Homo sapiens: one gene and its partners. The protein of the gene in region 3 interacts with the protein of the main gene of each other region in a pairwise test. Each region holds a gene or a part of one and is shown on either strand. Other genes may lie near its edges.

Evidence for each region. The genes of interacting proteins can lie anywhere in the genome.
Region 1: the proteins of STX1A (region 3) and VMA12 interact in binary tests that used the Homo sapiens proteins (3 or more experiments, as listed by UniProt).
Region 2: the proteins of STX1A (region 3) and TMEM41A interact in binary tests that used the Homo sapiens proteins (3 or more experiments, as listed by UniProt).

Annotation. Positions count from the first base shown.
Region 1 is NC_000017.11:28,352,984-28,360,717, forward strand, and holds the start of VMA12 (vacuolar ATPase assembly protein VMA12), read left to right. Parts: upstream 1-4,663; 5' UTR 4,664-4,687; coding exon 4,688-4,898; intron 4,899-5,932; coding exon 5,933-6,006; intron 6,007-6,331; coding exon 6,332-6,421; intron 6,422-7,545; coding exon 7,546-7,588; intron 7,589-7,670; exon of another isoform or gene 7,671-7,734. Other genes in the region: POLDIP2 (polymerase delta-interacting protein 2), read right to left, coding at 1-36, 258-333, 712-808, 1,505-1,602, 2,812-2,893, 4,305-4,465. UniProt on the Homo sapiens protein: Accessory component of the proton-transporting vacuolar (V)-ATPase protein pump involved in intracellular iron homeostasis.
Region 2 is NC_000003.12:185,495,965-185,503,486, forward strand, and holds the start of TMEM41A (transmembrane protein 41A precursor), read right to left. Parts: upstream 3,072-7,522; 5' UTR 2,998-3,071; coding exon 2,879-2,997; intron 1,018-2,878; coding exon 864-1,017; intron 1-863.
Region 3 is NC_000007.14:73,709,670-73,716,744, reverse strand, and holds part of STX1A (syntaxin-1A), read left to right. Parts: intron 1-5,347; exon of another isoform or gene 5,348-5,428; intron 5,429-7,075. UniProt on the Homo sapiens protein: Plays an essential role in hormone and neurotransmitter calcium-dependent exocytosis and endocytosis.

The DNA.
Region 1 (7,734 bases), on a different chromosome or scaffold from region 3:
AGGGGAGGATGTCTTCATGGCTGACATAGTCCAAGCCTGGCACAGAGATGCAAAAGACAGTGGTGAAACTCACAGGAGAGGAGAGAGATGGGGTTGAGAAGAAACATTAACTGGCCTTGTTCCAGTATGGGATAACCCTGATATCATACCTCTCAGCATCATAATCCCTCCCAGTGGATGACAGGACATCAGAATCCTCTCCCTGAGACACACCAGACTCCTTCTTGACGGGCACCATTCAAATGCTAACTACTCACCTGGGATGGCATAGAGGGCCCGACTGTCATCATGGTTAGCCAAGAAGGTCACAGCTTCTGTCTGAGATCTCTGAGACTAAGGCAAGAAGTGAATCAGTGGTGAAACCATGTCTCTGCTAAAAAGTACAAAAATTAGGCTGGTGTGGTGGCAGATGCCTGTAATCCCAGCTACTCGGGTGGCTGAGGCAGGAGAATCACTTGAACCCGGGAGGCAGAGGTTGCAGTGAGCTGAGATCTCACCACTGCACTCCAGCCTGGCGACAGAGTGAGACTCCATATCAAAAAAAAAAAAAAAGACGTGAATCAGGGCTTTGTTGGCCACTGTGCAGTCCAAGGCCTTGGGGACCAAGACTGACCTGGGCTCTGTTTGACCCCCTTCCCTCCCTTTGTCCCCATTGGGATGCAGGACTTTCCATGGAGAGGACCCCCAAGCCCAGCCATCTTGCTTACTTACTATATGTGGGCAGTCACGAGCATCAATCAGCACCTGATAGTAAGTGTGAGTTTTGCCTTTCACCTCCTTGGAGCCATGGCCAGCAGGGTTCTCTGCTCTATGGGGTGGGAGAAGGAGGCCAAGATCACCCCAGGAGAAATGGAAGCTGTGGCTGACTCAGCTCCCTACTCCTCCTCACCTAAACAGGCTGGTCTCTGATCTAAAGGGGCTTTAGCACCAGCTGGACACCTGCTCTGCAGCACCTCAGCTCAGCTGCTCCTCAGTTGGGGCAAATAATAGAGCATGGAAGACCATGGTATGGAGCCATCATCTGACCGTGTGGATACCTCTTAAAAGAAGGGGGCCATGTTGAGAAAATCAAATTGCCACCTCAGTCCCCAGGGCCCAGAGTACTCTTGTCTTCTTATATCCCAGGGACTGTCTGTGATCACTTAATGGGGCTGAACCTTTTCTGTTTTAATGTATTCTAGGGATGATGTGAGATTGAGGGAAAGACTCCAGCTGAACATCAAGAAATCAAGAAGACTTGTCCCCCAAATGCCCTCTGGGATACTCATAATGAAAATTAGGAATGGCTTAGGAAAGCATTCTGAGGAGGCCTAAAGGGACTCTCTGACTTAGACTATCCCTGGCACTCAGCACTTTTGTCTCCATGGGTCTTAGTCCCAGAGAAGTACTCTGGGGATGTTTCCAAGGCCTAGGAGGACGCTGTCTTCACCCCTAGTACCCCAATTACATATGTCTGCCATCTCCTCCTGAGGATACTGTGAGGCACAACCACAGGGAAACTTACTTTTCTGGAGCTGCAGAAGCCACATCCCGGTCATACAGTCTGGCCTGCCAGGGAAACAGGACGACACCTCGGTAGCCAAAAATGCTATGAAGGAAAAGCTGGAAGGAAAGAGGGGCCTCAGTGAGTCTGCAGTCCAGCAAATCCATCCAGGTGGGCCCCAGACCACAAAGCAACACAGGTGGAGGCAACTCCAGCACAAGGTCTTGCTACCTCTTCCCTTGAAGTCTGTGATCAACCAGACCAATGCTGGAACACTCTTATTTCTTCTTTACCTGGCTGACTCTACTCATCCTTTAGGTAAAAGCTTAGGCCTCCAGGAAGCCTTCCCTGACCTCCCTTCCACTTAGCACAATGTACAGCTATTGGCCATTTGCAAATCGTTCTTTTCTAGACTAGAAACTCCACAATAGCAGGAATCATGTCTACTTTGCTTTCTGATTTAACCCTAATGCACAATGCCTAGTCCATTGTAGGCACACAGAAAAATAAAATGTTGAACAAACAAAAAGTCTTCCTTACCTACAATATCCTAGAAGGGCCTAAATCTATCCCAGTGGACCCAGAACAAAGCTGATATAGAAAAAGAACCACACATCCAGAGTTTACCACACTGAAGTCAATTTTATTACGGCAAAGCATCAAAGGTATACTTTTCTGAAAGCTCCCTCCACGGCTTCCCACCATCCACTATGTTAGAGAAATCTTCAGCAACTTGGCTAAACCTCACTATAGTCCACACCATCCCTGTCCACATTAACTTGGAAAGAGAACCCACTGACACATTAAGTGCATTCAAATCCAGGAGAACAGAAACCCTATCTATAAAAATTTGATTCTGGGCTGGGTGCGGTGGCTCACGCCAGTAATCCCAGGACTTTGGGAGGCCAAGGCAGGTGGATCACCTGAGGTCGGGAGCTCGAGACCAGCCTGACCAACATGGAGAAACCGCATCTCCACTAAAAGTACAAAATTAGCCAAGTGTGGTGGCGCATGCTTGTAATCCCAGCTACTAGGGAGGCTGAGGTAGGAGAACTGCTTAAACCCAGGAGGTGGAGCTTGCAGTGAGCCGAGACCATGCCATTGCACTCCAGCCTGGGCAACAAGACTGAAACTCCGTCTCACAAAAAATAAATAAATAAAATAAATAAATAAAATAAAAAATGAATACAAATTTGATTCTGGAATGGCACCAAACATCAAGGTGGAATGAATGGAACACCATACCATGCAGGCCTGTGACCTAATCTGACTTTTTTCAGAAGCAGAGCACTCTATGAAAATGAAAGATGACCCAGCCCAATACTCACCTGCCCGGTCTCATATTTTCCATTCTGTTTTGGCACCTCAAACACACCAACTGTCTCCAACACTTTGCCCTCTGGTCGGTTTCTGAGTAGGAAGGAAAAGAACAAGCAACAGAAAAGCTGAGAAGGTAATGGTAGTTATCCATAAGAAAAAGCTCCTAGGATACTGAGGGGCCAGGGCGATGACAGCAGAGAAGGGTTTGGGGTAGTGGGACCAGCTGGAGCAGGAAAGGCTTTCCTCCTCCTTGGTGAAAACCTCCACAGTCTCCCAGTGTTAGATGTGACCGCTCCCATACTACTGTCTTCTCTCTTCACTGGGCATTCTTCATATCATGCCCTCACACTCTGCTCAAATGTACCCCTGCCCTTGTTTCTTCCCTAACCCACCCTCCTGACCTCCCACAGCACTTTAACTGTCTTGCTCACTTTTTCAATTTTTTTAGAAGGGGAGTATCTTTTTTTCTTCTTTTCTTACATTTTCTATATCACAAGTCATCAAACAATATCCTGCTCCCTTTACATTTCAGTTGTGTCCATGTCTTATCTTTATTAAATACTGTAAATTCCCTGGGAGCAATGCCTGAGTCTGATTAGCTGGTACTGCCCCCTCAGAGCCTAGTGTACAAGAGGTGCTCAAAAAATATTTGTCCTGTATTATAATTCCATGTCCATCTCCCCCTCTAACCTGTAGCCCTTACATTGCCCTTGAAAAGCTTAAACATCTCTAGATTTCCTACGGCACATCGCTCTCTCAATACCGTTTTTGTTCATATTCTCACAGGGGTCTTAAATTGCAAATAGCTATCATCTCTCCCCAATGTTCAGTGTCTAATATCAGCCACTAAAATGTCAGTCACCACTCTGAACAGGGCTGCTCTTTCTAGGGGCCCTTCAAATAAAGGCTGTTTTTACTGTTTTGAAGATGTGAACTTTATGCTTCCTCCCACTGATCCACCAGCCCATTTGATCCGCCTGTCCCATCCGTGGAAACAGTTTCCACACCATCCCCATGGCCTCAAACCCCCTTCCCCAAGTCACAGATAGAAAATCGATCTCCCCAAAGTCACTTGGAAACCTGGGGCCTACGAGGGTCCACACCCAAGAGTCTCGTTTCCCACCTCTAGCATCTTTCTGAGGCAGACCTTCACCAAATCCAAAGGCTGAGGGTTCAAGCCAATGCCCTAGGGCTGAATTAAAAAGCTTCCCTCTGACATCGGTGCTGGGGACCCCAGCCGGGGAAGTAGGATTCACTTGGGGAGGGTAACCTGTTCCCCCCCAGGGCCAGCCCTGTACAACCAGGGCTCTGGGCCGCGCTGGCTTCCCTGCTCCTGGCACATGTCCCAGACAGCGCAGGTCGGCTCCCTGCTCGGGACCCTCTCCCGGGTCAAACTCCAGTCACCCTCAGCAGGCCCGGGCCCCTGGCCTCCGCACTGGCTAGGAACACGCTCTCTGGGCTCCAGGCCCAGTTCCTCGCGCCCCCTGGCTCCGTCCCTCACCGGGACGAGAGGTGCCTCCGCGTCGTCGTGGTCGACGCTGGCGAGAAGGCTCCAGCTCCGGCCGCCGCACAGAGCGGCCTTGGCCACCGGGCCCCAGTCAGCGACCGGGACCACCAGCGGCTGCCCACGGCCAGGGCCCGCCGGGCTGTACAGGCTGCCATGTCCCGCCCGAGCGCCCGCCCGGCTGCTGACACAGAGCCCGACCCGCGGCCGGGCGGCGTTCCGCCCCAGTCCCACACTGCCCCGCGCGGCGTCCCGGCCCTCTTGGCCCGCCTGGTCCCACCCCGGAGCTCAGAGCAACTTCCGGTGCGCTTAGCGTTACTTCCGGCGCGCGGCGGGCGGAAGTCCGGGTTGGGGTCACCTGACCGGAGAGCCGGCTAGATATGGCGTCCTCTTTGCTTGCGGGCGAGCGATTGGTGCGTGCTTTGGGCCCCGGCGGGGAGCTGGAGCCAGAGCGGCTACCCCGAAAGCTGCGGGCCGAGCTTGAGGCCGCGCTGGGGAAGAAGCACAAGGGCGGTGATAGCTCCAGTGGCCCCCAACGCTTGGTTTCTTTCCGTCTCATCCGGGATCTGCACCAGCATCTGAGAGAAAGGGGTGAGCCCCAGTCTCCAGTCCGGGGTCCCCTCCTTGTGTCCAGATCGATTCCCTCCTGAGGTCTTTTCCCATCATTCCCCTTCTTCTACGGAGCACTCATCTAGACAAGTCAAGAGTCACTCCATAAATCCCAGGGCCACCCACTTTCTTAACTCCCATGGGAATTTCTCGTGGATGACAAATTTGCTTGTGCAGTTTCTGCTCTTTTGAGAGCCCCCTCTTCACTTCCAGGCACACCTAGGCCCAATTCACCCTTGAGAAAGTCTAGGTTTTTACCAAATACAAATATCACAGGTTTTGTCTCTTCTTTTTCTCCACTTTAGGAATCAGCTTAGCATAGTGAGCTTGTAGGAATCCGGATTTCTTTCCACCTCAAAAGCAAGAGTGGTGAAATCTGATACTTTGTTTTGTTTGTTTGTTTTTTTAATATAGGATGGCAAAAGCTGTGTTGAAAGATCTGGCCTGAGAGTAGCATGTGAGTTCCAGTCCTAGCTCTGTCACTAATCCTTTGAAGGAGTCATTTCTCCTCGCTGGGCCTCAGTTCCCTTATGTGTAAAGGGAAGGAACAGGACAAACTAGCACATAAGGTATTTTGCCAGAAGTAACATAGACCAGCCAGAAGTGCAAAGGGTAGACTGCTCAATTATTAGAACTAGAAAGGACCTTAGAAAGAGATTGCCTAGTATTAGTGTCCTCTGAGCATTTAGCATCACTATGACCTAAACTTATTTAGGGAAGAGCTGTTGTGGCCACAGAACTGATCTAACCCAAAGGCACAAGTAAATGGCTTACTTGTTAGTTATAACACTGGCAGGATAATTGAGAGCTGACAGCTAAAGTCACCTGCGCAGCACTGGGAGATACCTACATGGAATTATCCAAAATTCTTTTCAATTGAAAATGATCCTGGAAATGGATTAATGTAGAGATGGCCCTGTTTTATTTTGGTAGAAAGAAGGGCTACACCCCTCTTGATCTTAACCCTTCAACCTCAGCTCGTGGATCATTGTGTTTGTGAAACCTTTTCTTCTCAGATTCCAAACTATACCTCCATGAGCTCCTAGAAGGCAGTGAAATCTATCTCCCAGAGGTTGTGAAGCCTCCACGGGTATGTAAGGGATATGTTTGTGAGAGTGGTTATTGACTGAGTTGGGCTTATCCATGATACACTGAACTTATAAATCAACTTTTAGGCTTGAAAAATTGTTTTTGAAATCTTTGGGATCTGGGGGAGCCAGATATTGTCCTCCCCATCAGCTGTTTGGAAAATTGAGATCAAAAAAAAAAAAAACAGTTTCAAAGCACTGGAGTTACGACTAGTATGTGGGTCTCCTGATACCTTTAGCAGTGCTTTACCCCTGGAACCAATGATTGTGATGTGCTTTCTAACAAGCTGGGAATATCATTCTTCTCATTTGATTTTTCTGCTTCAGAACCCAGAACTAGTTGCCCGGCTGGAGAAGATTAAGATACAGCTGGCCAATGAGGAATATAAACGGATCACCCGCAACGTCACTTGTCAGGTAAGGACATGCTCTTCAGTACGTGGTCTAGGTAGCCCCTCAGAGTAGGGCCCTGCAGTGGAAGAAGATACAGAGTTTAGAAAAAACATGGAAACTTGGTTTCTATACTGTTCAGGGACCATAGGAAGTCTGCATACAAACAACACAGTTCCCATCTCATTCACTGAGACTCTGGGCTGAGATGGTGACCAAGTTTTAAACGTCATAGAAGTGGGAGTTAGCCGGGCACGGCGCTCATGCCTGTAATCCTAGCACTTTGGGAGGCTGAGGTAGGTGGATCACTTGAGGTCGGGAGTTCGTGACCAGCCTGGCCAACATGGTGAAACCCCGTCTTTACAAAAAATACAAAACTTAGCCTGGCGTGGTGGCGGGCACCTGTAATCCCAGCTACTCGAGAGGCTGAGGCAGGAGAATCACTTGAACCCAGGAGGCGGAGGCAGAGGCTGCTGTGAGCCAACACTGCACCATTGCACTCCAGCCTGAGCAACAAGAGCAAGACTCCATCTCAAAATAAATAAATAAATAAATAAATAAGTGGGAATGAATCTTGGAGGCTTTTTTTCTTCTTCTTTTTTTTTTTTGAGATGGAGTCTCACTCTGTCACCCAGGCTGGAGGGCAGTGGCAGGATCTCTGCTCACTGCGGCCTCCGCCTTCCAGGTTTAAGTGATTCTTATGCCTCAGCCTCCCAAGTAGCTGGGATTACAGGCATGCACCACCACGCCAGGCTAATTTTTTGTATTTTTAGTAGAGACCACGTTGGCCAGGCTGGTCTTGAACTCCCAGCCTCAAGGTGATCCTCCTGCCTCGGCCTCCCAAAGTGCTGGGATTACAAGGTGAGCCACTGTGCCCAGCCATTCGAGCATTTCTTCTGACAGGGCTCCCTACTACTCTATGGCATGCTCCTACCCTGGAACAGGAGAGTAGATGGGTACTGGCAGCCTATGTCCTCTCTCCGAAATGCCTGCTCTGTAGTCCAGAAAAGAGTCAAAATGGTTCCAGACAAAAGAATCCATGGGGAGGGCAGAGTTAATATGTTGGGGAATAGAGAGGGCTGAGCCAGACTGTCAATGGATGCTCTCTGAGCTGCTTCTATTCTGAATCATCTTCTTTTTCTTTTTCCCAGGATACAAGACATGGTGGGACTCTCAGCGACCTGGGAAAGCAAGGTGAGGTACTAGGAGATCAGGCTTCTAAAACCTTTTCCTGAGATGGGTCATGACACTCAGGCTTGTTGTTTGACTGAAACCCAGTTGGTGGGGGAGCCATGAGATAAGAGCACCTCCTAGAGAATGTTGAACTAAAGGTGCCCTCT
Region 2 (7,522 bases), on a different chromosome or scaffold from region 3:
AAACCATGAATTTTCCCTTGGTAAGACCACACAAGCTATGTAAGATGTCTTGTTTCTTTGCTTTTTGCTGGAATTACATCTATGCAGTATGTTAATACCGGGGTTCCATGTTGACCAGAGCTCTAGCAGACATTTGAAGATGTCTTGGTTTAAGAAAAAGGGAAAAGTGAACCAATACTTCCTAAATGCATTTTGGTTGGTAGACATCATCCTGACAAAACATGGGATCCAAGAGAGAAAGTAAAAGGAAGCCTTGGAAGTGGGAAGCTGGGGAGCCGCTAAGCACTGTGTTAAGTGCTTGACTACATGTCCTGTGTAATCCTCACTACATCCCTGAGTCATGCCATCCTTGCCCCATTCTACAGGTGAGAGATTAAGTATCCTCCCCAAGAGCACAGCAGGCAGAGTCAGGGTTCACCCTCAGGTCTGGATGTGGAGCCCCCACCAAGCAGCAGCTGGCTCTCTGCCCTGAAGAGGGATCAGTTCAAGACAGAAGACAGACACAGGGCAGCCTCAAGGAGTCAGCCCCTGACCCCGAGCCCCACACACCTCCCCTGCCTCTCTTGGACATGTTTGCTTTTCTTCTAGTTTCCGACAAGGAAACTGTTTGAGCAGGTCCAGCCTCAGCCTAGAGGAGAGAAACAGGCTGGGGTGGGAGAGGGAAGCAGTACAAAAGGAAGCTGTCAGTGTCTCCCACTTCGGTGCTCAATCCCTCCGTAAGTGCTGAGGGCCACTGTGTGCCAGCCCCGATACACCCACTGTCACTTTTAATCATCCCCACACAACAATCCCATGAGGTTACAGGGGAGTATCCAAATTTTACAGATAAGGAAACAGGGTTGGAGGGAGGGCAGGACACTGACCAGGAAGCTGGAGCCGGGGATGGCAAAGCCCTGTTTGTAGAGGTAGGCGCCGCAGAAGAGCAGGAACACGTAGGCCTGGTGCTCCTTCCGGTACTCTCGAAGGACCTCAGAGAGCTCCCGCAGCTCTGCCAGGTCGGAGGGGAACCACAGCGACCTGGGGATTTGGAAAAGCAGATGGAAACATGAGTTCAGATCAGTCCAGTGCCCATGAAAGTCACTCGCTGTGTCTTCTTTTCAGAGTAGGTTTATAAATATGCCCATCATCTGATCTGCTGGGAACACATACACTCCCAATGACAGATGACCTGATACGACGTTGCGGAGACAGACAGGAGAGCCCTAGTTTGGAAGCAAGAGACCTGGGTTAGCATCCCAACCCTGCTACTTTCTGTTTTACGTCCTTGGACTAGTCCCTGAGTCTCTTTCCTTATCTAAAAAGTGAGAGGTTGGTGCTAAACAGTCATTAAGTTCCCCTTTAGCTCTGGGATTTTAGAATCTGTTCTTAAGAGGCAAATGGATTCATTTCCAGGCAAGTTCTAAATGTCTCAAATTGCCTTCCTTTCAAGGACACTGCCTCCCCCACAAACCAAGAACAATTCAGACTTCAAACTGTTCCTGAGGTGCCAAGTAAAACGACTTTTTAGCATTCACTATAAAGCCAATTAGAGATTCTTCAGGAAAGTATATCTATCCCATAGGATAAATGTAACTTTTTTGATAATATGTCAGGCTTGAATCGAACCCTTTCAAAGAGCCTACTATTTAACTCTGCTCTTAATCTGGTCCTCAATGCACTTTGAATCCTGCCCAAGGGTTATAGTAGCAAGGCTATCTTGCCTCTGCCATCTGAACAGTCCTTGAATCCATCACTGATTAATCATGAGCAAACCCTCCTACTTCTCACGAGAGTTTCTCTCGGTATGTCCGACACCCACAGCAGAGCCTTCTTAGCTACAGCAAAAGAATACAGTAACTGAAAACAGCTGCCTTAATAGTCAAATATCAGTAATTCCCTTAACCACGCAATGCTGTACTAGGCACACTTCCATGCACTTTATAAAGAGTATGCAGCACTCACAAAAACCGGCCAGGTAAGTATTGCTCTGCCTCCTGCCTCGACCAGTCGTTCATTAGAAGGGGAAAAGGAGGCCAGGCGCGATGGCTCACGCCTGTAATCCCAACACTTTGGGAGGCTGAGGCAGGCGGATTACCTGAGGTCAGGAGTTCGAGACCAGCCTGGCCAACATAATGAGACCCCCCCCCCGCGTCCCTACTAAAAATACAAAAATTAGCCGGCCGTGGTGGCGCGCGCCTGTAGTCCCAATTACTTGGGAAACTGAGGCAGGTGAATCGCTTGAACCCGGGAGGAGGAGGTTAAAGTGAGCCGAGATCGCGCCACTGCACTCCAGCCTGGGTGACAGAGCAAGACTCCGTCTCAGAAAAAAAAAAAAAAAAGGTAAAAGTAGAGACAACCAGGAAGACGGGCAGAGTCGATAATTAATTCGTGAATAATTTAAAGTTGTCTATGCAATATTTCTCCTGAAGATCTAATGTCTAAAGTCTCAAGGGCAGACCTGACGTAAGTGGGGTGGGGAGGAGGAGAGACAGTTGAAAGTGGACTTGAAGAGGCTGGGGGCCCGCACGGGGGCGAAGGTGGGCTGGAAATGGGGCCCAGGGCTGGGACTGGGAAAGCAACGGCGCGGGCAGGCTCAGCGCCGCGTCTCCCTCGGCAAATCCACCCAACCAAAGGCACCGCGGCGTGACGCCCTGCACACCCTGCAGCCAGCACCACACAGGTCCCAGTCAGGCCCGGAGCCGGGCTCCCATCCACCCTTCTGTCCGAGACCGTGCGGACGCGGGCCCGGATACCAGACCCGGATTCCAGTCCGATAAGTGAACCTCAATTCCCAACGCCTCCGATACCGGAACCCGAATCTCCGAATCTCCGATTCCCAGCCCCGGTCCTCGGACCCGGCTCCCTTCCTCTGACCCGAACCCGGATTCCCGCCACGCACCTGCCTCCAGCCTCCTCGGTGGAGCCCAGTCTCCGCCCGCGGGGCAGTCGCGTCGACAGCAAGTACAAGGCGAAGGTGCAGCCGGCGAAGACCAGAAGGAGGCCGAGAAGCGGGCGCATGTCGGCTCCGCACCCCGGCCCGCGGGGCAGCCGAGAAGCTCACTTGCACTCCGGGACGCAGCGGCGGGCGGACTGAGCCCGCGGAGCACGTTCACTGACGGACCAGGGAGGGGTCCGCGCCGAGACCCGCCTCCGAACCAGGCCCCACCTCCTGAGCCAGGCCCCCGCCCCCGATTCTGACTCCGCCCTCTCTGTCCTTCGGTGGAGACTCCGGGAAAAACCTGCCTCCCAGTCTGCCCTCTCTCCGTCTGTCTGTGCTTGTTTTTCTACGTTTATCCCTGTCGCTTTCCCCACTTATTCTGCAGGCATGGCGCGCCCCCAGTGCCGGCTTGGTGCCAGGGCTGGGAGATCCGGGGGTGAATCGTGAGCCCGGCCCACAGCGAGCTTGCAGTCTAGAGATCAAGGCAGTCTTGTCCACAACCTGCTGTCACATAAAGCAAATGTAGCTGGTGTAGCACCAGGGGCTGCAATCAAGTGCGGTGGGGCGGCAATAGTGACCACGGAAATAATCAGAATTGCTTTTAATTCAGCTCCTACTATATTCCCGCATCCCTGAGCCTCACAATCATCCTCCAAGGTAGGTATTTTTGTCTTTCTCTAACAGATGAAAACTCTGAGTTTCAGAAGAATTAAATGACATCCCCCCAAAAGAGAGACAGTATAAGAATCCAAGTCAACCTGAGTCCAAAACCAGTGGCCCTTAACACTGTGTGGCTTTATGGAGGACATGGAGTTTAAGTTTACCTTCAAGGATGAGCAACACTTTTCTTCAAGCAGAAAAAGAAGGGAATGGGTGAACACGGTCCCAGGTAAGGCACCAGAATCCAGTTTCAGTGAAGCCTAAGGTATATGAGAAATAAGTGAGAATCTGGGGACAAACAAGAGTGCACTGAAGGCAGGCTAAGGAGTTAGATTTTTAATAATGTAGATGAGACACCAACAGAGGTGTTTAAGTAAGAGAATGATTTCGTTCCTGTTTTAGGATGTTCGCTTTGGCAGATGATTAGAATACGTGCTGACTTGATAGCCACAACTGTCCTGATAAGAAAGTACGCCGGCCTGGCTGGGCATGGTGGCTCACGCCTGTAATCCGAGGATTTTGGGAGGCCCAGGCGGGCGGATCACTTGATGTCAGGAGTTCGAGACCAGCCTGTCCAACATGGTGAAACCCCGTCTGTACTAAAAATACAATAATTAGCCGAGCATGATGGCATGTGCCTGTAATCCCAGCTACTCGGGAGGCTGAGGCACGAGAATCGCTTGAACCTGGAAGGCAGAGGTTGCAGTTACTTTCCCGACATTGCACCACTGCACTCCAGCCTTGGCGACAAGAGCGAAATTTTGTCTCAAAAAAGAAAGAAAGAAAGCACTCAGGCCTGACCCAGGACCACAGCAGTGGACATGGAGGGAGGAGGCTGGGGGTAGTTGGATTGGTATGATATGTCACTGAGTAAACGAAGGAAGGGACAGAAAGAGAACTCCAAAGTGTCAAAAGCCTGGACAACAGAGAGAAAGCATCCTTGTCCTATCATTTAAAGCACCTGTTGGGCCAAATAGGGAGCACCTTTCAGAATCCATGTGCACAAGATCTCAGCAATTCTACGTCCAAGAATGTAACCTACATCCAAGAATGTACTGGAATTTAATTCCACATCCAAGAATCCCCATAGGTAGCAAAGATGTATATTTAAGGGTATTCTCTCAGCTTTGTTTTTATGTTAGGAGATTGGGAACAACCTAAATGCCCATCAGCTGGTGACTGGCTAGGTTAACTATTCACAAATGGAATACTAGGTAGCCTCCTAAAAGAGGAAAGCAATTCTACATATCCTGATACAGTGTGGTCACCAGATAGATGGCTAAGATACAAATAAAACAAACAAGTTGCAGTGTTAGAGTATGCTATGTATCACTCCTTTTTAAGGACAAAAAGAGGATATACTTTAACTTTTTAAGATACCAAAGTATTTATTTATTTAAAATTTTTTTCACAGAATTGTTATAGCATGTAGAACCAAAAATTATTTACAAATGAAATTATTCAATGTCTGAGATTTGTGTCAAAATAATGGTATGGGGGTTTAGTGAGTAAGCATGTAGGTAGAACAAGATTGTCCATGAGCTGATAGTTGTTGAAGCTGGGTGATCACCTGGGTGTTTTATACTATTTGGGTGTTAAACTATTTTTTTTTCTATTCTTGTGTATGTGTCAAATTTCCACTTAAGAAAATGGGGGAAAATGGTGTCAGCCCTCCATTCCAGCTGAACACACCATGTTAGTTCATGCCCCATCACACCACTCTTCTAGCCATCTGTCAATCTTCTCTGCCTGGCAAATTTCTACTCTTTCATCAGGACCCAGGATAATTATCACCTTCTCTGAGAGGGCTTTTCCAACCCCTATAGTCAGAATCATTCCTTCTCTATGCTTGGGGCCCCCTGAGAAATGTCTCTAATCCTGTCACAAATACATATTCCAGTGTCATTATCCATCTCCCTAGTAGACAGTGAACATTTCCATCAATGAGACAATGTCTCAACTATCTTCTTTCTGTCTCAACCCTTAACCCTGGCACTTAATACTTGTTTGTTAAATTCATGGGTCAGGTCTAGTGAAGACAATGATTAGTTGTTTGGTTTGATACATACTGACCTTGAGAAGTCAAAGGGATATAGGAGGAGAGAAAGTGAATGAGGAACTGATGTTACTGAGCCTGTGCTAGGAGACTGCTGGGGCAAGGAATAGAGTGAGGAGAAAGGAGGCAAGGCTCCTGCTGGCAAGGACCTCACTTTCATTTCAGCTGGGGAAGAGCATGGAAAGATGTCATTCTAGAGCATGGTAAGTGCCATGGATGAAATAGACAAGGCAAAACTTATTCCACTTCAGCAAAGCGAGTGTCAATATTCTACTTATGGATGAGTGGATGAACACATGTTCAGATGAAATCACTTGTGCAAAGTTTACAGCTGTTAGTGCTGAACAGGAACAAGCCTTTGTCTGCCATCATGTGCGGCCATGCTTTTTCCTCTGCCCTTCACTGCCATTCGACATGCAGGTGACACTCTGGAGCTCGGACCGAACATTCAGATTTGGAGGTCATTCTACAGGAGATAGTTGAAATGAGGGGAGGGGAGAAGGTCTCCTAGAAACCACAAGAGAGGGAAAGTAACAGCAGCTGACTTTCATTGAGTACTTAGTACACTCCAGACCCCATACTAAGCATTTTTTTTTTTGAGATGGAGTCTCGCTCTGTTGCCCTGGCTGGAGTGCAGTGGTGCAATCTCGGCTCACTGCAACCTCCTCCTCTTGGGTTCAAGCGATTCTCCTGCCTCAGCCTCCCAAGTAGCTGGGACTACAGGTGTGTGCCACCACGCCCAGCTAATTTTTTGTATTTTTAGTAGAGCCAGCATTTCATCGTGTTAGTCAGGATGGTCTTGATCTCCTGACCTCATGATCTGCCCGCCTCAGTCTCCCAAAGTGCTGGGATTACAGGCGTGAGCCACCGCACCTGGCCCATACTAAGCCTTTTACACTTTTAAAAGTAAAAGTGAAATCACTTTGCACAAGTGATTTCATCTGAACATGTGTTCCTCCACTCATCCATAAGTAGAATATTGACACTTGCTTTGCTGAAGTGGAATAAGTTTTGCCTTGTCAATTTGTTTATTTATTTATTTATTTATTTATTTATTTATTTATTCTATTATATATTTATTTATTCCATATAACAACCCTCATTAAGTAGGAACTCTTTTTTGAGGGACAGGGTATTACTGTGTTGCCCAGGCTAGTCTTGAACTTCTGGCCTGTGGTGTTCCTCCTGCCTTGGCCCCACAGAGTGCTGAGATTACAGGCTTCAGCCACCATGCCCGGTCTAAAGTAGGAACTCTTAACAGTCCCACATTTATAGCCTGGGAAAATGAAGCTTAGGAAGAATGAAGTCAACAGAGCAACAGAGGTCACACACCTCGCAAACAGCAGAGCCCAAATGTCTTACCATGCACTACCCTTTTGAGAAAGAAGACTGAAATCAGGAGCCTGGTAAGGAAATGGTGGAAACAGTGAAAGAGAACAAGATGCACTGTTTCATTTGTGAGATGAGAAACAGAAAAAAAGAAATGTCCTGAGAGCCCAAGAAAGACTGTTAGGAAAGGAACTGGGGCAAGTGTCAGAGTCCATGGAGAAACCCAGCAGGGAAACCTGAGGGTCATGGCAATTGGCCAACACGAGGCGATAAGGGACCTTTGATGGAGCTATTTTTGGTGGTGCTAACCTTCTTTGCTACAGGCTCACAACTGGAGCATCTGCTTGCTTCCTCTGACCTGCCCCCTGGACTCATGTTGTCATTCTTCTCGCTCAACCTGTCTGCCTAGGGAAGAAGCCCTGGACTGTGTTTCCCCAATCTCAGTATTCCCAACCCTCCTGGCCCCCAACCCAGTACCTGCAGAGCTGACTCTAACCACCCAGTGCACCTCCCGCAGGCTGCAGCAGCCCCCATCGAGGCCACTCATTTACAGCACAGGC
Region 3 (7,075 bases):
TATGTGCCAGGTCATGTGGGACAGACACATGGGACCTGTTGCAGGAGGCTGAAGACGTAGCAAGGAGGGAGAGTTGGAGCAGCACAATCCTGGAAGGCTTCCTGGAAGAAGAGACCCTGGGATAGCACAGGAGCAGGAGCTGGATTTGAATAGGAGGAGAGAAGGTGATCCAAAGGAGGGGACAGCTTAGTGAAGGCAGAGAGATTGGAATGCTCAACCAGGAGAGAATAGCAGGTGGTCCTGACAGCTGGTGTCTGGGGCCCCCTGAAGTGCCTTGAGGTCTAGACTAGGGCCCAACTCACTGGAGCAGCCCAGGCAGGCCTGGATGGGAAGGCCCAGGGCCCTGCTTTGCCCATCAGTTTCCCCTTCTCTTTCGTTGCTGGGAAGAGTCTGGCGGTTGGGTGGCAACACCGGGCAGGTTCATCCTTAATCTCCCTCTGCTCATTTCCTCATCTGCAGAATGGAGCCAGTGTTACCTACTTTGCAGAGTGGCAGGCACGAGAGTGTAAGAACAGGAGCCGGACAGGGCTCGCCCGATCCTTCCTCCCATTACGTTCCAGAGGTTTCCCAGCATGAACGATGCATTTGGGTACATTTTCATCTGGGGTGCAGGTGGAACGGCCTCCCGGGACCATCTAGTTCAACCTCCTATCTTACAGATCAGAAAACAGGTCCAGAAAGGGCCAGGTGTTTATCTGAGGTCATGCAGCCTGTGGGGGCAGAGCCTGGCCCCTTCCACGGCCTGAAGCTGCCTCCCTGAGCCACTCTGGGGCCCTGTGAAGGGGCAGGCTCTGCAGGGCGGGGACCTGGTGTACACACAGCTGGAGGCTGGAGACAGGGTGAGGAGGCTCAGATTGCACAGCCGTCTTTCCTGGAGACCCAGCTTGGCCTCTCGCACACCCCTGACTCAGCTCCGGGCCTCTCTGCACTAGTGATATTGACTTTGATTAGTCATTTAAAAGAAGAAGGGAAAAAAATAGCCCTCGAGGCAGACAACAGCCACTGTGCTCAGCAGTGATGAATCAACCTTGCCAGCCTGGTGGCTTCCCCTGGGACACGCCTGGAGGCTGCCTGGCCTCTGCGCCTCTTGGAGGAGTCAGACTATTACATCCAGGAAGGTGTCCTGGAATCCTGGAGTCTCTGCTAGGAGAGACCACCAGGGCTGCCCCACCTCTGCCAGGGGAAGCTCAGGGCATCCAGCTCCCCGTGGTTCCAGCAGGGTCTGTTCTTCCTAGCAGTCTCCATGCTAGGGAGGTAAGGAGCACTCCCTCCCAGCCTTCCTGGTTGGAGGTGGTGTTTTTTGTTGGTTTTTTTTTTGTTTTTTTAGACGGAGTCTCGCACTGTCTCCAGGCTGGAGTGCAATGGTGCCATCTCAGCTCACTGCAGCCTCCACCTCCTGGGTTCAAGTGATTCTCCTTCCTCAGCCTCCTGAGTAGCTGAGACTACAGGTGTGCATCACCATGCCCGGCTAATTTTTGTATTTTTAGTAGCAACGGGGTTTCACCATGTTGGGCAGGATGGCCTCGATCTCTTGACCTCGTGATCTGCCCGCCTCGGCCTCCCAAAGTGCTGGGATTACAGGTGTAAGCCACCACACCCAGCCAATTTTTTTTTTTTTTTTAGACGGAGTCTCATTCTGTCATCCAGGCTGGAGTGCAGTGGCATAATCTTGGCTCACTGCAACCTCCACCTCCCAGGTTCAAGTGATTCTCCTGCCTCATCCTACCGAGTAGCTGGGATTACAGGCATGCACCATCACACCCGGCTAATTTTTGTATTTTTAGTAGAGATGGGGTTTTGCCATGTTGACCAGGCTGTTCTTGAACTGCTAACCTCAGGTGATCCACCCACCTTGGCCTCCCGAAGTGCTGGGATTAAGGCATGAGCCACTGCACCCGGCTACCCCTATAAATTCTGATTCAGTCTCTTTGGGGTGGATCCCTGGAAGCCGTTTTTGTTTTTTTTTTTTAACCCCCCCAAAGGATTCTGGTGCTCGCCCAGCTTTGAGAACTGCTGAATGCAGAACAAAAAAACACCAGGATGTTAGCTGGGCTTGGGGGCTCACACCTGCAGTACCAACTACTTGGGAGGCTGAGGCGGGAAGACTGCTTGAGCTCAGGAGTTTGAGACCAGCCTGAGCAACATAGTGAGACCACCATCTCTACACAAATTTAAAATTAGCCAGGTGTGGTGGCAGGCACCTGTAGTCCCAGCTACTCTGGAGGCTGAGGCTGGAGGATTGCTTGAGCCTGGGAGATCAAGGCTGCAGTGAGCTATGATCTTGCCACTGCACTCCAGTCTGGACAACAAAGCGAGATTCTGTTTCAAAAAAAAAAGAGCTGGGCGCGGTGGCTTACGCCTGTAATCCTAGCACTTTGGGAGACCGAGGCGGGTGGATCACCTGAGGTCAGGAATTCAAGACCAGCCTGGCCAACATGGTGAAACCCCGTCTCTACTAAAAATACAAAAACTAGCCGGGTGTGGTGCGGGTGCCTGTAATCCCAGCTACTCGGGAGGCTGAGGCAGGAGAATCGCTTGAACCTGGGAGGCGGAGGTTGTGGTGAGCCGAGATTGCGCCACTGCGCTCCAGCCTGGGCAACAGAGCGAGACTCTGCCTCAAAAAAAAAAAAAAAAGTGCCAGGACAAATTGGATGTTGGTTGGATGGGAGAAGAGGAGGAAGATGGCAGATGTCCTAGGTTTCTGGCTTGGGGTTCTGCGCTAGGCAGTTCAGAGGATGGGGCTCTGGCAAAACAGGTGGAGCCTGGTTTTGGCCAGGAGGCAGGCAAGGTGCCCGTATGATATCTGGGCACATCCGTCCGTAAGACACTTGGGCCTTTGAGTTTGTGCCCCACAGTTCCAGCTGCCACCTGCACAGCGAAGGGTTCCAAGTCCCCAACTCCAATCCAGCCCCCTCTCCAGAGCTGTGAATGCCACTCAGAAAGCATTGGTAGATCCCCAAGGGAGCTGGGCCCTAATTATTCCACAGAAATCTGTGTGTCCACTTTTGTTTTTTTGAGACAGGATCTTGCTCTGTCACCTAAGCTGGAGTGCAATGGCACGATCATAGCTCACTGCAGCCTCGACCTCCAGGGCTCAAGCAATCCTCCCACCTCAGCCTCCTGAGTAGCTGCAATTACAGATGCATGGCACCACGCCCAGCTAATTTTTGTAGCTTTTGATAGAGATGGGGTCTTGCTATGTTGCCCTGGCTGGTCTCAAACTCCTGGACTCAAGTAATCCTCCCACCTTGGCCTCCCAAAGTGCTGAGATTACCGGCGTGAGCCATCATGCTTGGCCACTTTATGTATACAGTGCCCGCCCTGGCCAGCCCAAGACACCAGGAAGACAGCATGCCAGGGTAGCCACATCACCTAGTTACATTTTGGTCAAGAGTGTGTCTGGGCTGGGAAACAGAGGAGGTGAGGGTGGCAGTGGGGCTCTGCCATCCCGCGTCCTTATCAGTTTATTCCGTGTCCAATGAGAACTGATTCCTTATCTGAGTGAATCTGGAGGACATCTCTAGAATGCTGCCACCAGGCTCTAGCTTGGATGTGGATGAGGGTGCAGGGGCGACAGAGCCAGGAGCCATCAGAATCCCACAAACTGAAATAAGCATCAGAACAAATGAAGAAATGAAACAGGAAGAAGGTCCTTCACTCGAACCCCAAATCCACTCCACAGACAGTGGTTGGGAAGGGCTTGGGGCTTTTCTTGACAGGAAATGCTACATGATCACTTATCTGATTCCTGGCTGTATTACTAGAGGTAGATCATATAGAAAGAGGGAGGGGATGGGCCAGATCTTTGGCATTGCCCAGACCACAGTCAGCAGCAGATTCAGTTTGTGTGCTGTATGACAGGAGACAGAGGCACAGTGGAACAACTCTTGGGCAGGGGCTGTAATTTGGGGTCCCTGGGAAGGATCTGAAAGGGAAGGAATACTTAAAAAGAAAAATCTAGGGAGGATGTGGATGCCGCCTTCAAATCTATAGCAGGGGTACCCCAGGGAGAGGGCACCCACAGGTTCTTTATGGCCTGGAACCAAACCACAGGGAAGAGAAGGACTCTAACAGTTGGGGCTGCCCGAGATGGGCAGAGCTGTCTGGGGAAGCTAGTGAGCTCACTGTCACAGGAGGTTTGCAAGCTGAGGCTGGCAGCTGAAGCCAGGGGGACTTTTCAGGTCCCTTAGGGCCTGAGAGTTTTCAGCCATGGCTCCAATAGGAATGTGAATGGCGTGTGGAAGAACAAGGTGCGAGATACTGATTTGGGGGGGCAGGGAGGCTTCTGGAAGGAGGTGGCATCGAGGAAGAAGGGAATGTCACCTTCATGGAATCAGCATCCCGGGCAAAGGGATGTGCCTGGGGGAAGTTGGGGGCAGAGGGTGGATTGTAGGGCCAGGAACCAGTTGTAGGTGTGGGGGAGTGGGGTCTGATCCCAGGGGAGGGCAGCAGGATAAAGAGCAGAGCTGGGGGTGAAAATTCCCAAGAACGAAGAAGTAGAAGGACGTGGGGAGGAAAGGCCCACTTCGCCCATCCCCTCTAGGTTTTGCTTGGAGCTGTGGCTGGTTTGACCATGCCTCAGAGGTCAGGCCCTCAGCCCCCCGACTGGCTTTGGGGCCAATCTCAATGCCACCTCCAGGGTAGACTTGACCTGCGTGCCCCCATCTACCCTGGCCCTGATCTCCCTTTCCCCAGCCCTACCCTCATAGACGGAGGGTCCAGAGGAGGATGCGGGCATCTCTCCTCCCAGCCCTTCTGTTAGAGAAGCTTCCTGGTCCAGCCTTCAGCCTTCTGGGAAGGTAGCAGGTCAGAGCTGGCCGGATGCCTGGAGAAGATCTGCCCTCATTACACAGATGGGCAAGCTGAGGTCAAGAGAGGCACCAGACAGGTGCCAGGGGTCTCTGAGGGCAGGACAGGGGTTCGGTGGGGCTGGCAGTGACGCTCGTCTCTGGCCACGGAAAAGGAGCTGGATAATTCTCCATCCACCCTTTGTCATCTACCCTGATCCTCTGAGCACCAGGGCAGAGAGGGCAGGACACTGAATGGCAGGAGCTCCTGGGGCCACTTCCCAACCTGGCAGCCTGCCCAGGAGGAGGAACTGGGCTCCTCCTGGCAGTGCTCTGCCTCAGTTTCCCTAGGGAGGGCTCCTCTGACTCAACTCCTAGGCCTGTCACGGTCTAAAAGCGTGAAAACGGCTCCTGGATTTTCTGTGTCTGTAGGGAGCTTGGTGGGGGAGGGGGTACCACCTGGTGACAGCCCCAGGCACTCGGTGGGGAGTGGGAACGAGGATTTATTTTAGCTGCTGGGGAGGTGGTACGATATCTTAAAGAGAGGAGGCCCCTCTGAGCCGCCTCTATCAAAGCTCCTAACTACCCCCTCTCCCCATGAGTCCCCACTTTGATGGGGTGATGTGAGCCCCTCACAGAACATGCTCAGGCCGGGCATGGTGGCGGCTCACACCTATACTCCCAGCACTTTGGGAAGCCAAGGTGGGAAGATCACTTGAGCCCAAGAGTTTGAGACCAGACTGGGCAACATAGTTTGACCCTGTCGCTACAAAAAAAAAAAAAAAATCAAAAAGTAGCTGGGTGTGGTGGCATGCATCTGATGCATCTGTAGTCCCAGCTGCTTGGGAGGCTGAAGTGAAAGGATGGCTTGAGCCCGGGAGGTTGAGGCTACAGGGAGTTATGATTGTGCCACTGCACTCCAGCCTGGGTGACAGAGCGAGACCCTGTCTCAATCAATCAATCAGTCCATCCATCAATCAAACAAACATACCTGCCCTGCTTCCCCACTTTTTCTCAGCCCTCCCTCCATGCAGCCAGGTGTCACTGTCCCCATTTCACAGAAGAGTAAATAGAGCCAGAGGGGTTAAGGCCCAGCCTGATGAGTCCCATCAGTTCTCTCAGCCCCTCAACCTCCACCTGCCTCCGTCCTGACGCGAGAGCACCGAGGTGGGGTCAGTGCTGAGCTAGTCAGTGGCCACTCCCGTGAGGCACTCAGAAATGAGGTGGGAACAAGATCAGATGTGGTGGTTCACGCCTGTAATCCCAGTACTTTGGGAGGCCGAGGCGGGTGGATCACCTGAGGTCAGGAGTTCGAGACCGGCCTGGCCAACATAGTGAAACCTGTCTCTACTAAAAATACAAAAATTAGCTGGGCATGGTGGCATGCACCTGTAATCCCAGCTACTCGGGAGGCTGAGGCAGGAGAATTGCTTGAACCCAGGAGGTGGAGGTTGCAGTGAGCCAAGATCACACCACTGCACTCCAGCCTAGGTGACAGTGCGAGACTCTCTCAAAAAATAAAAAAATAAAAATAAAAGAGGTGGGAACAAGCCCTGAGCCCCAGGCTGAGAGACCTCAGTCCCTGCCCCAGGGTGGCCACCCCGGATATCCTTGCCTTGGCTGCAGAGAGAGACCTGGCCTTGCCAGCAGCGTGGGCTGACCCTGGCCAACTGGCGGTATGAGGCAGACAGTAATAATTGTGCGCAGCATGCTGGGAAGTCAGAAGTATGATTACCCCTGCCCCACGATGGGGGTGGCTTTTGTACAGCTGGTCCTGGGACAGTGGAGTGGGGCTTGTAACTGTGGCTGAGGCCTAAGGCAGGACCCAAGCCAAGTGGCAACATGACTGTCCCCTTGTGCCTGCTGGGCCCAGGTCTGGGGACTGGAAGGAGGCAGACCGAGGTCCAATGGCAAGACCGACAGGGAGGCCAAGTGCAGTGGCTCACACCTACAATCCCAGTGCTTTGGAAGGCTGAGGCAGGAGGATCGCTTGAGGCCAGGAGTTCAAGACCAGCCTGGGTAACACAGTGAGACCCCCGTCTCTACAAAAATAAAAATTAAATTTAAAAACTGTTTTAAAAAAAGACTCACAGGAGATTCCTAAGAGATCTGATCCGTGCCACCTCGGGACTGGGGTTTAGTGGTGCCCAGGGCTGGGACACAGTAGGCAGGTCTCCCCTTATAGGGCCCACTCTGGAAAGGGAGCTTGGGACCTCTGGGCTCCACCTGAATTAAAACCACTGGAGCCAGGCATGGTTGTGGAAACCTATAATTCCAGCTACTCGGGA